4 linked regions of the Homo sapiens genome follow. The gene in region 1 interacts genetically with each later gene. Each region holds a gene or a part of one and is shown in the gene's direction. Other genes may lie near its edges.

Evidence for each region.
Region 2: changes in TIMM22 (region 1) and PITRM1 together harm fitness more than expected from each alone (negative genetic interaction), as found in Homo sapiens cells (one large-scale study listed by BioGRID).
Region 3: changes in TIMM22 (region 1) and MBTPS2 together harm fitness less than expected from each alone (positive genetic interaction), as found in Homo sapiens cells (one large-scale study listed by BioGRID).
Region 4: changes in TIMM22 (region 1) and OPA1 together harm fitness more than expected from each alone (negative genetic interaction), as found in Homo sapiens cells (one large-scale study listed by BioGRID).

Annotation. Positions count from the first base shown.
Region 1 is NC_000017.11:999,838-1,004,674, forward strand, and holds the end of TIMM22 (mitochondrial import inner membrane translocase subunit Tim22), read left to right. Parts: intron 1-1,174; coding exon 1,175-1,251; 3' UTR 1,252-3,834; downstream 3,835-4,837. UniProt on the Homo sapiens protein: Essential core component of the TIM22 complex, a complex that mediates the import and insertion of multi-pass transmembrane proteins into the mitochondrial inner membrane. In the TIM22 complex, it constitutes the voltage-activated and signal-gated channel.
Region 2 is NC_000010.11:3,169,477-3,174,548, reverse strand, and holds the start of PITRM1 (presequence protease, mitochondrial isoform 2 precursor), read left to right. Parts: upstream 1-1,766; 5' UTR 1,767-1,769; coding exon of another isoform or gene 1,770-1,776; coding exon 1,777-1,832; exon of another isoform or gene 1,833-2,335; coding exon of another isoform or gene 2,336-2,367; intron 2,368-4,342; coding exon 4,343-4,445; intron 4,446-5,072. UniProt on the Homo sapiens protein: Metalloendopeptidase of the mitochondrial matrix that functions in peptide cleavage and degradation rather than in protein processing. Has an ATP-independent activity. Specifically cleaves peptides in the range of 5 to 65 residues.
Region 3 is NC_000023.11:21,846,117-21,849,616, forward strand, and holds part of MBTPS2 (membrane-bound transcription factor site-2 protease), read left to right. Parts: intron 1-3,500. UniProt on the Homo sapiens protein: Zinc metalloprotease that mediates intramembrane proteolysis of proteins such as ATF6, ATF6B, SREBF1/SREBP1 and SREBF2/SREBP2.
Region 4 is NC_000003.12:193,595,775-193,600,068, forward strand, and holds part of OPA1 (dynamin-like GTPase OPA1, mitochondrial), read left to right. Parts: intron 1-4,294. UniProt on the Homo sapiens protein: Dynamin-related GTPase that is essential for normal mitochondrial morphology by mediating fusion of the mitochondrial inner membranes, regulating cristae morphology and maintaining respiratory chain function.

The DNA of each region.
Region 1 (4,837 bases):
CGTTGAGCAGTATCCCTGGCCTCTACCCACGAGATGCAAGTAGCACCCCCGTCCGTTGTAACAACTTTTTTTTTTTTAAAGAGACCGAATCTCACTCTGTCGCCCAGGCTGGAGTGCAGTGGCACGATGTCAGCTCACTGCAACCTCCACCTCCTGGGTTCAAGCGATTCCCCTGCCTCAGCTTCCCAGGTAGCTGGGATTACAGGCACCCGCCACCATGCTCAGCTAATTTTTATTTTTTTAGTAGAGATCAATTTCACCTGGTCTCGAACTCCTGACCTCGTGATCTGCCTGCCTCAGCCTCCCAAAGTGCTGGGATTACAGGCATGAGCCACCACGTGTGGCCAACATTTTTCTCAGTAATTCTAGACAATTGTCTTTTAATTTTAGATATAAATTATAATGGTAATATCTTTCTGCCCTTGGGGATTCTGATTTCTACCCATTGAATGCTAAGTACAGATATTCTAGAAATATTAGATTATCAGCTGCAAAAAAAAAAAAAAAAAGAAAACCAATTTGCTGCCTCTTCTCCCCGTTGGCATGTCCATTCAGAGCGTGGTGGAGGGCCTTGGTGACTTGACTTTCCTAGAAGCAGCAGTGTTTTATCACTGGGCCACTTTCCATCTGTCATGCCCTAACTTACCCAGAGCAAAAAGCCAGTTTTCTCATCTTCTGAGAGACAGGATGATTTGCTGTCATGAAACCTGGTTTTGCTCCTCAAGCACCATTTATGATGACGGACTGACTTCTCCGCCGGTCGTCCCATTGTTCAGCTTCACCAGGGCCTCTTTGAGAAGCTCTGCTGTCTCCAGTACTGCTTTGATCACCTTCCCAGGAATGTATTCCATAAACAAATCAGGGTCAAGGCCATATGCTTTCATTTGATTCCGAGGGCTGCTTCTCTCAACCAGTTTCCTGCCTGCGAGGGGCTATTTCCCTAAGACTAGAAATACCCTTTGAAGGAGAAAAGCTAAACAAATGTAGTTAGATAAAGCGCACTGGATTAGATCATATACACTGCTTCATTGATGTCTTCCAGAGCTATGATCGTTTGAATGACTTACAGTGCTTAAGCTCATTTCATGACACTGAGGGTGTGCCAACTTTCCGTGAGTGCCTCGTGACCCAGCAGCTGTCACCACAGGTCATGTTCTTTCTGTTTGTTTGACAGCTGGCTTAAAGGCTGGGGCCATTGGTTGTGGAGGTTTTGCTGCTTTCTCTGCTGCGATTGATTATTACCTCCGGTGAGAGTAATTGCCTGCAGGGAAGGATGATGCCAGCCCCGGATCCGGGCTGCTCTCTGGAGGACAGTTTCTGTACCACACCAGGGCCTTGCTTCAGGGCCTGAAGACATTCATTTTCCCTCATGTCGTTGGTATTCTGAGGGAGCTGCCTGGCTTCTCTGCCTCCAGCCTTTGGGGTAGCCACACTTTGCTGCTCCTGGACTCCAGCCAGCCTTCACAGAGGACGTCCCGTGCCAGATTCTCTCACAGCAGATCGGGAGACAGGATGTTGACATATAGGAATTCAGCTCCACAAAGCTTCAGGCCTGACCACAGCTGGCCCTCTAGGTTGTTTGGTGTTGTGGGCACAGAGGTGACAGTGTCTCTGCAGGCACTCAGGAAGCTGTTCTACCTTGGAACTCCATGCAACTATCCGTCTCGAATACCAGGGCAGGGCAAGGCGGACTGATGCCGTCCAACCAATTATCTCACTTGTTTTGTGTTCTGTCATCCTTGTTTTTTTTTTAAAAATACACTCCCCTCCCCCACCGCCACACACCTTACAGTTCAAAAGGTTGGTTTATTTGTATTTTATTTTCAAATTCCCTATTCCAAAAATAGTGCCGGGTGGCCCAAAGATAACATCTGAAGGGAAAGAATGAGAAAGCTCCCAGGGAAGCGGGGGATGGGGCGCTGAGGCAGGGTTGTTAGAGGACTGTGTCATCCTCACCAAGCTCATTACATCTGCCAGGGCCTGCCTCAAGAAGCCCAGCCCAGCCTTTTCCTGGGATGCAGTGAAATCCCATCCATGAACTCGATGGGCCCCTCCTGTGCCGGCCGAGAGGCACACACTGCCTTCACGACGTGACTGCTGGACCTGGCCGAGCTTGAGGCCACATGTGAAGGGTCCTGCTGTGGTCATCTTGGTGACTCGGTCACAGCAGCTACTGGCCAAGATCAGACGTCGCTGAGGGGCTGTTCACCACCATCCTCGTTCTCCAGGGTCAAGGAAGTGTTTTAACATGTCGTGTTTTCGACTTGACCTTGTGGTATTTTTCTTGGCCTAGTTGTGTGCCATGGATATTAAAAAAAAAAAAAAAAAAATCCGTCTACAGTTGGGCTTCAGCACTGGTGCTGCTTTACCCTGGTGCTCTGTGGGGGGATGACACTGCTGGAGTCAGGCCTTTGCTCTTGGGTGGGGCACAGGCAGGTCGCTTGGTGGGGGCCACACAGTGCTGGGCACCTTCAGCCAGTGGTGATGAGTCTCCTTTTTCCTATAATACGGTAATTCCTCTATCCTTTCCTTTTTTGCCTTCTTCCTCATCTGCCCTGTCTTCTGGCCCACACACTCTTAACCAGCGTTCACACTCAGTGTACATGGCCTGGAGGCCCGAGTGTTTGTACATGAGTGATGATGTCAAACCCAGCTGGTAACACCTTCCTTGGGTCATGTTTGCCATTTTCTTGGAATGAATGTGAGTTCCTGCTCAGGGCTCATGTCCTTTTACAGTGAATTCTATATAACGCCCCTCCCAGTCTCACAGCTAGGAGGCTTCATCACTGCTAGGCCAGTTGGAGCGTTCCCTAGAGCTCAGAACAAATTGTTTCCTCTGCTGTCCCTAAATATAGGACACCTACAAGCACTCTGAAGCAAGGGCAGACATTCCCACCTGGTACCTGTCAAAGTCCTAGGATGCCTGGGATCTTCCATCTTTCAGTCTAGCACGTGGGACCAAATACAAGAGATGCTGCCCTCACAACAGCCTTGGAAAAGATGAGCGCCAGGGCTGTCAGTACCCATCGGTTCAGTAAGCGAGGCATTGTCCACGCTGCCTATTCACTCGAGAGATGAATAGTTTCCTGTTTTCGATGGCTGGGGAGCCAGTATGAGCTCATAAACCAAACAGCAATTTTCAGAGACATCTGTTCCTGATCTTCAGAATAAACTCAGTGTCCAGTTGCTTCGGCTGGTGGGAGCCAATATTCACGCCACTGACTCTCTCAAAGGGAGGGTGGGCCCTCGGAGACCCAGCTTCTCTGACAAGCAGATTAGACCAAAAGGCTGCCTCAAAGATATGCCACTTTGAAGGAAAGCGTAGAGAAGCGTTTACATAAAAGAAGACGCTTCCTGTTCAGTGGACAACTTCATGCCACTTTCAAGGCACACCGATGGCCAGGTGGGACATTTGTACTGTAGCAGCACATGGCAAAGGTGAGCCAGAAGCAGCCTGGATGCTGGCTGATCCGGAGGCCTTTGTGAAGAGCAAGGAGAGGGCTCCAGCCCACCTCCCCGCAGCTCTGCCCCAGCCCCCGTGGGCCACAGGGAGGCTCAAGGGGAGTGAACTAGGTAAACAGATTCCTGGAAACTCACATCTGGATGCAGCTGGAAGAGTTAAATATTTACATTGGTGGCTTCCCTGGACCACCGCGAACACAAACATCCACACCACAGGGCTGAGTTTTGTGCAAATGATGGGGCTTTGCATTTTTTATTAACATTTTCCTCTCACGTGGTTTACATCAATTTATAATAATCTACATAAGTTGAAACAGAACATAGACAAAAAAATATATCCTTACCAACTTATTAAAGTCAGATATTCATGAAGGGTCCCATCCTACCTGTGTATCAGCAGAAACTGGCAGCCATCAGCCATTGCCCAGCAAGAACAGGCAGACCTGGCGTTTCTTAGCCTGACTCCTGCTGGGCACAGCCCACCCTGCTGGGCACAGTGACTGGAGGTTCCAGGCTGCACAGTCCCTGGCTCCTGACTCCTGCCGGGCGCAGTGACTGGAGGTTTCGGGCTGCATGGTCCCCGGCTCACAGGAGACCCTGCTGGGTGTTTCCTTGGTGCAGTTTAGTCCAGGTCTGGCACCTGACCCTCCCCACTCTGGGGGTGGGATTTATAAATATGAGCCTTTGCATTTCTCAGCCTTTGCAGCCTTCCCATAGCCTGTTCTCACGTTGCCTCAGCGAGCTTGGGGCTGTGGGGCTCCCTGAGGCTGAGACGCGAAGGTGCCCAGTCTGGGCCGTGACTCACTCTGCCCCTTCCTGTCCATCACTTTGGAAGCAAGCAGGAGCCTTCTGTGCCACACACCGACACTCGGATGCCAGGCAGGGACCTTAGGAAGGGCCAGGCACTGCATCTTTAGACTCAAGTTCACCGCCTTTCCCAGGGAGCAAGGGCTCCTTGCTAAGCTGCTCACAGGCAGCCGATGGTCAGTACTTCCTTCCTCTTGGGCATGTCTTTCCTCCGTGCACAGAGTATTTACTGTTCTGCCCAAGGCCACAGGAGTAAACAGGCTCAAAAAGGGCCTCTCACCGCGCACGCGCTGCAGCGTTAGGGCCGGCAAACCCTTCTTTAAGACTCAGCCCTGAGCACAAGCAATGGGAACTGAGCTCCCCAGCCCTGAGGGCCCGGAAACGACGCTCTGCCACACAGAAGAGCCGGGGAGCTGTAACTGGCTATAAGTCGAGCCCCTGGAGCTGCATCTGCTCTCCTAGGCTGATGGCCCGAGGCTGGCAGCCGCAGCTCGTGTGGGAAGTGTACGGTGGGAACACACCTCACTCCTTCCTAGTACCGGGCAATGCGTCTGCAAGTCGGGTCCCT
Region 2 (5,072 bases), on another chromosome or scaffold:
GACCTCCTGGGGCTGTGTCATGGGCATGCCCTTAACCTTGGCAAAATTAACTTTCTAAATTGATTGAGACCTAGATCGGATATTTTGTGTGCACACACCCAAATTCTCCCTAGAAGACGGGTGATGCGCAGAGCGTGTTTGTGTCTGTCGCTCCTATTATTGCCTGTGTTCTGGTTCCTTTGGGCTCTTCAATAAGGAGGTACGTGTTTACCTGCAGCCCAGAACTGGCTGCCCTATGGAGAGTTTAGGGTAGACACGTTGGGACTTTTTCCCACAGTATTACCTTCCACATTGCTTCCAAAGTTTTAGCTTGTTCAAGCCGACTGCAGCCATCTACTTACCATTTAATTTTTAATTTTTTTTTTCAGAGCCCATTAGGAGACAGAGGGAGATTTGAGCCTGTTTGTATTCGTGATACAAGGGGAAAAAAAGAGGGAGAAGGTGAAGGGAGGAAGGAAGAGAGGCTCTGAGAAACCCGGAAGGTCAGACTTGGTGCGGACTTCCTCCAAGGGCTACCCCACCCTCTCCAAGCGTGGCTAATCCCAGGGCCCCTTCTGGCCCACAGTGCAGAACCACCCACTCCTACGGGGGCCTCCTTCAGCCTCTCTGGGGGTTCCCAGAAGGGCCCTTGGGCACTTGGGCAATGTCAGGGGGCTCAGGTGCATCTTCCTAGACACGAAACGAAGAGGAAAGCGGAGGCAGCAGCGGGGGCCACAGGCTCCCATGCAGCAGCTCGGAGCTGTGCTGTGCTTCGCTGGCGGCCATCCGTGATACGTGTGACACCGTGGGGCCCTGGCCCTGGGACCTGCCATGCAGCCTTGAGATCTCATCCAAGAAGCCCCCAGACCCCAAGGTTCAGGCCTGGCGGGGCAGCAGAACGCCTTTGGAGCTCAGCTCAGCCCTACAAACAGGACCAACGCCCACACCAAGGCCAGAGAGGGCTACCAAGTTTCACCTGGCCCAGCTTCCGGCAGCCCCCAACCAGGCCACTACCCTCACCTGAACACCGCGGTCCATCACCAAGCCCCACCCACTTCTGCCAGCCCTGCCCCCACAAGGACCCACCTCTCGCATGCAAGCCCCGCCCCCAAGGCCCAGCTCACCTGCAGCCCCGCCCCACCAGGCTCCACCCCATCGCCTGCAAGCCCCATCCCCAAGGCCCAGCTCACTTGCATCCCCGCCCACTAGGCTCCACCCTGTCACCTGCAAGCCCCGCCCCCAAGGCTCAGCTCACTTGCAATCCCCTCTCCCACTGGTCTCCACTCCTCACCTGCAAAGAGCCACCCCTCGCTAAGCCCCTCCCATCACTTGCACAGCCCCACCCAACACAGCACGCCATTCCAGGAGCCCCTCTTTTCACCAGCGCAGCCCCGCCCTTCACCAGGCCCCACTTCATCTGCATACACACGCCTCTCGCCACGCCCCACTTCTCGCCTGCCCACTTCCCCCTCCTATCATCTGTCCACATCCTGCTGCTGGCCGAACCCCGCCCCTTTCGGCAAGACGGCCCCGCCCCTTTCTACCCGTACCACGCCCCTCGCCTTGCCCGCCTCCTTCGGCACGTCGGCCCCGCCCCTCCCGCCCATCTCCGTCCGCACCGCCCTCCCGCCCGTCCCAGAGCAGTGGAGGCCTACCCTTTTCACCTACAGCCTATCGCAGAGGACGTCGCTGTTCGCGTTGACCAATAGGAGTGGTAGCTGTCACGGCAAGCCCCGCCCCGCGCCCTGCGTCGGGTTAAGAGGGGGTTCCTCGCCAGCCAGGTGCTCGTCATGCGCAATGTGGCGCTGCGGCGGGCGGCAGGGCCTGTGTGTGCTGAGGCGGCTGAGCGGCGGGTGAGACGCTGCGACGGGAGGCGCTCGGCGCGCTGGTACCCGGGAGGGGAGGGTCCAGGGCAGGCCGGAGGCGTAGGGGTCCTCGTCCCTGCGCCCGGGGCTGGCAGCTCCCCAAGCTGTGGGCGTCCCGCACCCCGAGCCCTTCCTGGAGCTCCCGCATCCGAGGCTCCGAGGCCGGAGGACCTCGGAGCTCCTTCCTACTCCCAGGGGCGATGCCCCGGGCTGGGGGCCGGGCCTGCCCGCGGCGCTCCCGGCGGGGCCCTCCATTAGCGTGGGCTTTAACGGGGGTAGTAAATGGGGTCGGCATTTGCGGTTCTCGCTGACAGCTTTGCTCCTAGTTCATTTTTGTTGGGAGGCCGAGTCCTTAAGAGACCCGAGGCGCCCACAGCCCATACTTAAAGTCTCGCTGTGTTCAGAGAACTGACGCCTCCCGGAATTGAACTGTTTTGTTTTTTTAATGACTCAATTTATGGGGAAAAAAATGACGAAGCAGTTTAGTGTTCATGGTAATCCACGAGCCCGTGTTTAATATAAGGTAATAGTTCAGCGCTGCCGGCCCAGGCCGGGAGGCACGGGGCGTCCGTGGCATGAGTTCGGCCTGGCCTTACCGCTCAGGAGTTTCCTATCATGTCCTTGATAAGTAACTTCTTAAAACGCTTCTGTCCCATAATTCTGAAATTTGCTAAATCAGTAAGCAAATGTTGGTTATAGCATATCTTCATAATATTGCCAGTGACTGAATAGGTTTTTTCTTCCTGTACATATTATCTTTAAAATAAATATTTCGGTGGGATACATTAATGTAGAAAATCCCATACGACATATAATACAATTGGAGAGAATAATAATTACGTGTTTTTTAAGAGCAGGGATCTTGCTCTGTTTCCCAGGCTGGTTTGATCCCCCTCCTCAGCCTCTCGCATTGCGGGGTTACAGGTGTGAGCCATCTCATTCAGGTGAGAATAATTATTAGAAATAGGTTGGGCGCGGTGGCTCACACCTGTAATCCCAGCATGTTGGGAGGCCAAGGCGGGCAGACCACTTGAGGTCAGGAGTTCAAGACCAGCCTGGCCGACATGGTGAAACTGTCTCTACTAAAAATACAAAAATTAGCTGGGCGTAGTAGTGAGCACTTGTAGTCCCAGCCACTCAGGAGGCTGAGACAGAATTGCTTGAACCCGGGAGGTGGAGGTTGCAGTGAGTCGAGATTGCACCGCTGCACTCCAGCCTGGGCAACAGAGTGAGATCTGTCTCAAAAAAGAAAATTAGTGTCCCTGTGACCAAGTTGAAGATTCCCCTAACTGCTCGTAACTCTCTCCCTCCCTCTTAGATTATCACGGTCATAACATACAGAAATGTCCTTGCTTTTTTTTTTTTTAATATTTTACCATTTTTATGCGTTCTGACAATGTCTTGTTACCTATTTGAATAATACCTGTTTAGGATAATACTGTATCATGTGTATCTTTTGTTTCACGTTATGTGACCCATATCTTTGTTACATGCCACTGTAGGCCCTTATATTGGTAAGGTTTTTTTTTTTTTTTTTTTTTTTTTTTTTTTTTTTTTAATTGAACGATTAGTCCGCACTTTATCCATTCTCTGTCGATACACCTCCGGGTGAGTTGAGTTTGGGACTGTCAGGGTTCGTGCTGACATTTTTGTCTGTGAGTGCTGGGGCCGCAGTGTAAGGTGTGGACGATAGAGACCAAGAGGTGAATGGATTTCCAATCTTCAGCATTTTTTTCTTTTTTTTCCGACAGTCTTGCTCTGTCACCCAGGCTGGAGTGCAGTGGCGTGATCTCGGCCCACTGCAGCCTCCACTTCCCGGGTTCAAGCGATTCTCCTGCCTCAGCCTCCCAAGTATCTGGGACTACAGGCACCTGCCACCACATCAGGCTAATTTTTGGCCAGGCTGGTCTCGAACTCCTGACCTCAGGTGATCCGCCCACCCAGGCCTCCCAAAGTGCTGGGATTACAGACGTAAGCCACCACGCCCGGCCTCTTCAGCCTTTCTAAAGAATGCCAAGTGCTTTTCCAAAGTTATTCCACTTTGTACTCCCTGTAGCAGTGTATGAGAGTTCCCGGTAATATTAGGCTTTTTAAGTTTTCAGCAATTCGGTAGGCATGTAATGGGATTTAACTGTAGTGTGAATTTCTTGGTATACTGTGAAGGCTTTTGAGGATTCTGTGAAGGAAAGAAGCCCTTTTGTTTAAGAGTTGTCTCTTAAACAAGGGGAATTTAAACTGTAATTGTATTATAGTTATTTGTGAACAAGTGTAAAGAAAAGGTTTCCAACATTGAAGCTTTAGTTAAGATAAAGATCATTAAAATGGAAAGGACCTTACCAGAAATCAGTTTTCTGGAATGTGCAAGACTTTGGAAGATGCAATATTTAATTTTTCTTTAATAATCTTTATTACATGAGAGTATTTTCACTATGTGGCTGAATAATGTTAGCCAGATACTTTTCCTGCAACTCATCTAACTTAGATGACTTTTAATCTAGACATGCACACCACAGAGCGTGGCGATGGAACAGTAACCGGGCTTGTGAGAGGGCTCTGCAGTATAAACTAGGAGACAAGATCCATGGATTCACCGTAAACCAGGTATGGGTCGTCCTCGGCACCTCCTTATAAATCCACATACATTGCAGGTGCGGCTTCTGGCCTATGTACGGAGCCCTTCAGGGCGGAGACTAGCGTTTTTGTCCTTGTGTCCCAAGGCCCTGGCCCAGCTCCTGCTGTGTGGCAGCTACTCGGCTGAACAGAGCTTGTGAGTGAAATGAGCCCCAGTCCCTTCCTGGAATCCCGCAAAGCCTGGTTCTTGTGAGATTTTAGAGAGTAACACTTCCAGCTGGGTCTCTGTAATCAGACACACTAGCGTTTCTGCAGCCAAACCTGATGTTTCACTGAGCATGAGCATGAAGACTCACTGCCCTGATCTGTTTAGTCAGGTTTTGCCATCAAATAGCTTGCTCTAAACGTCCGCAGAACCTTTCAGTTTTCTGAGCCATTCGGGTTTCAGAATGATAAAGAAGCAATTGTGGACCTGTACTTACTTGGGTCTGTATTAAAATAGATTCATTTGGTTTTTGTTTTGTTATTTTGCCTAAACCTTTTGCATTGTTTCTATTTAGCATGGTAACTGAAAATGACACGCTTCATGTATTTGGCCAGCTGTTGGCTTTGTGCTATGCTTGATGTTATAGCAAACGTGAAAGACAAACAGCTTAC
Region 3 (3,500 bases), on another chromosome or scaffold:
TTTAGAAGTCATTTGTAGAGAACAATAATCTCTCCTATGGCCATAGCTCTTTTTTAGAGATTAAAAAGATTTAGCAGGTGAGGCCTCAGAAGAAATTATTTCTTTCTTCAGCAAACATTCCCTGCCTTACAGATGAGAAAATCAAGGCACAGACACGTTAAGTCACTTGCCTGTGGTCACAGCTCATAACTAGTAGATCCATCATCACTGATCTTACAGCCTATAGACATTATGCTCTATTATTATTTTATTATCATTATTATTATTATTTGAGACGGAGTTTTGCTCTTGCTGCCCAGGCTGGAGTGCAATGGCGCGATCTCAGCTCACCACAACCTCCGCCTCGCGGGTTCGAGCGATTCTCCTGCCTCAGCCTCCTGAGTAGCTGGGATTACAGGCATGCACCACCACGCCTGGCTAATTTTGTACTTTTAGTAGAGACGGGGTTTCTCCATGTTGATCAGGCTGGTCTTGAACTTCCGACCTCAGATGATCCACCCGCCTTGGCCTCCCAAAGGGCTGGGATTATAGGCATGAGCCACTGCGCTCGGCCTATGCTCTACTTTTAAGAGAGACAAATAATTCTTCAAGGAACTATAAGTAATTTTACTTACAGTTTTAAACCTCTAGGTATATGGTGGGAGGATAGGTGGGACTGGAGGCAAGAGAACAGGATAGTGCAGGATATAAGGTGGGAGATACAGGTAGGGTCTAGGTTATGAAGTTTATGTTTTACCTGTAGGTAGCAAGTCTGTACAAAATGGACCAAAGTCATTAGAGTGAAGATGTGGAGATCATTTAAGAGCAGTAATTTATTTTAGAAGTGATAAAGATATAAAATTAGTGGCAAGGAGAATGAAGGGGATGGATTCAAGTAAGCTTTTGGAGTGGAATTCTCAGACATTGGTGATTAATTAAATGTGAGGCTGGAGGGAGAAGGAAAAGTTTAGGATGACTCTCAGGTTACACAATTGGTTCTTGTTCAACAAGAAAGAGGGTAAGAGAGAAAGAAGCCAGTTGGAGAAAATATGATCACTGGCTTATCTGCCTGCTAGAATTAGAATGGCAAAACGTTGTTTAGAGAAGAAATTATTTCTTCTCTTTGCCACTCAGTTTATTCATAGTACTCACAAAAATGTCAGCTCTATTAGGAGATCCGTGCTTTGGAACCATTAAGAAGTCAGCTGCCCTCTGGAGCCCACCATGCATATTCATGTATAAGTTTAAGAATGTTATGAATCCTGACTTTGACATGAGCTCTTGTAGCTTAAGTAACATACTTTCTGTTTACTCTATAATTCCTGACAGCCTTGTTCAGTATTAATTCTCCAAACCATGGCACTCTGTGTTGTTGAAAGTATTCTGTATTCAGTATTCTGGTACATCTGATACCCTGTGTGAATCATGGCAGAGACAGATGGGCAATCGTGTACTGTTGCCAGCAAATAAGACCTACCATCTGTTGGTATTATCACACATTCAAATTCTTACTTTATCTCACTCACTAGTACATGCAGAAAATAATAAAGAGAAGGAAGAAATATCCTATTGGACCAAGCTTACTGATTTATTTGAAATAAAGGTAAGGTAAGCAGGATATTTTGTGATATAGAGGGTATGTATGACAGTCTTAAGTATGTAAATTTAGAGAGGGGTCAGAGAAAAGTATAATACTGGAAAGATGTCTGACAACTTAGGAATGGAGCAGGTATATAAAAAGGGACATAGAAGTTCTTGAGAAAAGTTGCTCAATAGGGTCCAAGTAAAGAGAATTTCAGATAATGAACATTATAAACATATCCATTTCCTTTGACTCTTTACCTCCACATCTGGGACTCTAGCTTAAGGAAACACTTTCAAATATAGAAAAAATAGTATTCATTAAGCTCTTTAGCCTAACATTATTTATTATTATGAAGAATTAAAAGCAACCAAAATATCTAATTGAGGAATGGTTAAATTATTGGATTGTCATTCAATTAGATATTATGCACACATTAAAAATGATTATAACTAGTTTCGGCCGGGCTCAGTGGCTCACGCCTGTAGTCCCAGCACTTTGGGAGGCCGAGGTGGGTGGATCACCTGAGGTCAGGAGTTCGAGACCAGCCTGGGCAACATGGTGAAACCCCGTCCCTACTAAAAATACAAAATTAGCCGGGTGTAGTGGCGTGTGCCTGTAGTCCCAGCTATTTGGGAGGCTGAAGCAGGAGAACTGCCTGAACCTGGGAGGCGGAGGTTGTAGTGAGCCAAGATCACACCATTGCACTCCAGCCTGGGCAACAAGAGTGAAATCCCAGCACTTTGGGAGGCCAGGGTGGGTGGATCACGAGGTCAGGAGATCGAGACCATCCTGGCTAACATGGTGAAACCCTGTCTTTACTAAAAATACAAAATAAATAAATAAATAAAAATTAGCCGGGCGTGGTGGCGGACGCATGTAGTCCCAGCTACTGTGGAGGCTGAAGCAGGAGAATGAGATGAACCCGGGAGGCGGAGCTTGCAGTGAGCCGAGATCGCGCGACTGCACTCCAGCCTGGGCGACACAGCGAGACTCGTCTCAAAAAAATATATAAATAAAATAAAATAAAACAACAACAACAACAAAAATGATTATAACTAGTTTCTTAACTAGAGAAAGGACACTTGGAATTAATGGAATTTAGAAAATGATTCAAGCAGCATTGTTTGAATCTTCAGTTACTAAAGGAAGCTTTTTAGATGAGATTTCTGTGTCCATAAAAATAAATTCCAGTTGAATTAAAATTAAAACTTGAAACCATAAAAGGCCTTGAAAGAAAAGACCCATGTTATCATTTTTATGAGCACAGAATGAGGAAGACATAGAGCGAATAGTAGAAACCATGAATATTTTTTATGTAACAGTAACACCTTTATTTTTTATTTTTTAAATACTTTATTAGAGCAGTTTTAGATTCACAGCAAAATTAAGAAGGTACGGAGATTTCCCCCCTTACAATGATGAACCGACGTGAATATGTCATTACCACCCATAGTTTACATTAGGGTTCACTCTTGGTGTTGTAGGAAACCATGAATACTAATAGATTTGACTACCTAAATTTTATATATCAAAAACTAAAAACAAAGTAAAATTAAAAGGCAAACAAACTGTGGAATACATTTATGTCATGTATTACAAAGGACCAATGCTGATATTTGAAGTGATCTTACGGATCAGTAAGAAAAAGTTGAATACTTTAGGAGAAAACAAGTCAGGTTATCAGTAGGCAACTCGCAGAAGGACCAAAAAATGGTCAAAAGTACGGGGAAAGTTCAGCTTTACAAATGGTCAAAGAAATGTAAATCACATTGCAGATTTGAATAAAACGAGCTTGCCCAAGGTTATGAAAGGGTCTGCTTTTAGAGTATAATTTGATGACATGTATCAAAATCTTTTAAATTTTGTGTAATAATAGCATTTACTACCCTCTCTGTGAGGCATAACATTAAACATTGGACAAAGATTAGCTCATTTA
Region 4 (4,294 bases), on another chromosome or scaffold:
TCTTATTTTTTATTATCTTCCTTTCATTTTTCCTGTCCTTTTTCTTTCTAGACATCTCTTAGGAGGATAGTGGTCCTCTTAGATTGATATGTTATGTCCGTGATTTCCAAAGTAAGATTTGTACTCGTCGTCTGTTAAAAGGAAAAGCATACATATACCCTATGTATATATGCACACTTTTTTATTTTTAAATTATATATGTATCTGTACTAATTATTTACATTGTAAGTCAACCCTAACATAATCTTAAAGGATAAGATACAAAACATACTGCATCTAGAAGCTTCAGTACTTTCTTCCTGAATCCCAGTAGATCCTTTTGTTCATCCCACGGGATGCATTCCGCCCCCATCCTCCCACTCCCTTTGGATACCACATTACCACAGCTCTGCATCACTTAACTTTCCTCTTATGTTTTTCACCTTTTTTTTTTTTTTTTTTTTGCATTTTATGTCCTGGGGAATTTCCTTAATTCATTTCATGGTTTTACTGTTGATTTTTTTAATATTGGCCATCGCAACTTTTCTTTTCTTTTCCTTTCCTTTCCTTTCCTTTCCTTTCCTTTTCTTTTCTTTTCTTTTCTTTTCTTAATTTTCTTTTCTTTTCTTTTCTTTTCTGTTCTTTTCTTTTCTTTTCTTTTCTTTTCTTTCACACAGGATCTTGGCGTGTTGTCCAGGCTGGCCTCGAACTCCTGGGCTCAGGTAATCCTCTCACCTTGGCCTCCCAAAATGCCAGGATTACAGGCGTGCGCCACTGCATTTGGCGGCAACTTAATTTTTTTATTTTTATTTTTCCTTTTAGAGGACACCTAGCACTGAGCATTGCAACTTTTCATTTCCATGAACTTTTAAGAAAACTCTTAAAGACATGTTTAATTCTGTACACTTTCTATTGTTCTTTGATTGCTGTTTTTGAATAACAACAAGGAGTACGCCTTAGCATTTTGATGGTATCCTCTTAATAGTCGCAATAATAGTCCCCTTGGCGCTCTGTATACTCTCAAGTCTTAAATGTTTTGTATGCAGCTGTACGTTGACAGTTGAATGGTCTCGCTCCAAGTGGATCAGCAAGAACATAAAGAATCATTTAACTGGTACAGGCTGCGGCTTGTGAATTCCCTATTAACACCAAAGAAGACGTGTGAGACTCCGTACTGAAACTAAAGACGACTTGTGAGTTCCACACTGAGATCAAATAAGTCTTTATGATGGTGACAGAGAGTGGTGTCAACGCCTAAAGTTTTGGTTAATCTCTCTAAATTGAGGGGCTGACCAAAAGGGGGAACTTAACTGTATTAGACATAATTTTGAGAAACATGGGTATGTGGATGGTAATGGAGGAAATGGGTGTAGATGAGATTGCCTAGGGAGAGTGAGAAGTAGGTTAGGTCTAAGCCTTGATGAGTTCCCAACATTTCCAAGGGTAGTTGAGGATACTGAAAATGAGTGGCCAGTGAGATAGAGGTAAAGCTAGAGACTGCCCAGGGGAGAGGAATTTTCAACAATGAGGAGGTGTCAACATTGTCAGGTATTGCTGAGAGGTCAGATAAAACCAGAATTGAGCAAAATGGCCATTGGAAGCCTATGGTGCCCTCCGTAAGAGCTGTTTCGCTGAAGTGATAGAAACGGAAATCAGGCTGGGCACAGTGGCTCACTCCTGTAATCCCAGCACTTTGGGAGGCCGAGGTGGGCGGATCACCTGAGGTTAGGAGTTCGAGACCAGCCTGGCCAACATGGTGAAACCCTGTCTCTACTAAAAATACAAAAAGTAGCCAGGTGTGGTGGCAGGTCCCTGTAATCCCAGCTACTCAGGAGGCTGAGGCAGGAGAATCGCTTGAGCCCCAGAGGCGGAGGTTGCAGTGAGCAGAGATCGAGCCACTGCACTCCAACCTGGGTGACAGAGCAAGACTCCGTTTCAAAAAAAAAAAAAAAAAAAGAAATGGAAATCAGGATGGTTTGGCTTTTATTTTAATAAAATAGCTAGAGCAGGGAAATGGGGTACTTTTTTTCCCCCTTTTAAGATGAGACATAGCCAGGTGCAGTGGCTTACACCTGTAATCCCAACACTTTGAAAGGGAGGGTCGCTTGAGCTCAGGAGTTTGAGACCAGCCTAGGCAACATAGCAAGACCTTGTCTCTACTAAAATTCAAAAAAAATTAACTGGGCATGCTGGCACACACCTCTAGTCCCAGCTATTTATGAAGCTGAGGCAGGAGGATCACACTTGAGCCCAGATACGTGGGGCTGCAGTGAGCCCTGATAATGCCATTGCACTCCACGTTGGGCAACAGAGCAAGACTTCGTCTCAAAAATAAATAAATACCCTGTCTCAAAAATAAAAAATAAATATGGGAGGAGAGATTTGACTTAGATTCCTCAAAGGGCAGGAGGAAAGAGAATTCCAAACAGTGATTCACCTTTAATGGGAGAAAGATCGCTTAATTTTACATGAGGAAGAAGAGGATTGGTGGAGATACAGTAGGTGAACAGTTTTTGTATGAGGAAGTTGAACATGTGTCATTCTAATAGCTTCCATTCTCTGTGAAGTAGAGGGCAAGGTCATCTACTGAGAGTTGGGGAGGTCAAGAGAGATAAGGGGAGATTAGAAGAGCTCTTCTAGCAGAGAGTGGAAGAATGAATTGCTAAGAGAGATGAAGTAGGATTGTTAAGTAGTTTTGAGGGCCCTGTTGAGATGTGCTTCCAGTTGGGTGTGATTTTCTCCAGTAGTGCTTTATTTCCCTGGGTACAGGCAGAGAGAAAAACAATAAGGCTCATGTAGGGTTTGTATTTTGTTGGACAAGTCAAACAGAAAAGTCAGAGGACGAGGGAGTTTAGAATGTTTGCAAAAGAGTTATTGAAACGATGAACCGCATAATCTAAGGTGGTAAGTGGGTGAATAGATAAGGAGGATGTGAATAGGTAAGGAGAAGAAAGAAATATCAGATTATTGATTATTGATGGCGACTCTCTAATACAGCTATTATGCCATTTTAACCGATTAAGAAACTAAGGCTTTAGAAAATTCATAATTTGCCCTAACTGCACAGCTAGTAAGCAGTGGAAATGTGATTGGAACCAGAGTTCTTCTGACTCAATAGACTAAATGGATGTAAGGATGTAGTTGAAAGAAGGGTGAGCTAAACGTTGTGGAACCATGAGCTCTTTCTCTGGTTGATATCCCTCTCTGTAAGTGATAACATGGGTCACGCTGGATAAAACCTTGTGGTGATTGGTGACTTTCCTTTGTCCTTCCTCCTGTGCCTAGTCTGGCGAGTATCTGCCTTTCCCTTTCCTTTCTCATTGCTGCCACCTAACTTTAGGCTCTTCCCCTTACATCTGGGTAACTGAAATAAGATCACCTTTTTGTTCCCCTTCTGATTTACTTTGACCTAACATTATCTTTACTATTTTCTTTAAATTAATGTTTCATTAGTCTTATTCTACTCAGGAACTCTGTAGTTCCCCATTGCCTACGAAAAAAAGTTAAGCCTCAGCCTTATATTCAGTGACTCTTCAATTGGATATTCAGTCCAGTTTTACTCCTCCTATGAGCCTTCTATGCCAGCTCCTTGGGTCTCTTGCCCTTTCATTGTCTCAGCTCTGCACCCTTCTTTCTCTTTTTTATTCTTTTTTTTTTTTGTACTTTTTTGGTTTTCTTTTTGGTTTCTTTTTTTGTTTTATTTATTAAACCTCCATCACACTTCATCCTATGGAGTTTTGAACCACAGCAAGGTGCAGTATCATCCTGGGGCTCTGGAGGAAGTGGCAGGGAGTCCAAAATGTCACCTTAGCTTCTTATCTGGGGCCACATGTATTTCTGCATCTGCTGCTTCCCACACTCTTGCCCACAAGTGTCGCTTGTGGAAATAATTTGAGATTTACTGTCTGGCTGACCCTAGTTTCAATCTCTTTTCCACCATTTGCTAATCATTCTACCTTGGGCAAAACATAGAATTAAAAGAAAACTTCAGACAAGTTAAATTTGATGGAGTTTAATTGAGCAAAGAAAAAAAATGATCCACAAATTGGGCAGTCTCCAGAATCACCGCAGATTCAGAGAGACTCCAGGGGTGCCTCGTGGTCAGAACAAATTTATAGACAGAAAAGGTAAAGTGACCTACAGGAATCAGAATTGAGACATAGAAACAGTGAGATTGGTTACAGCTCGGCGTTTGCCTTATTTGAACGCAGTTTGAACACTCAGCAGTCTATGAGTGGTTGAAGTATGGCCGCTGGGATTGGCCAACACTCAGCTGTTATTACAGATGCATACTACTAAGTTAGGTTTTCGATTT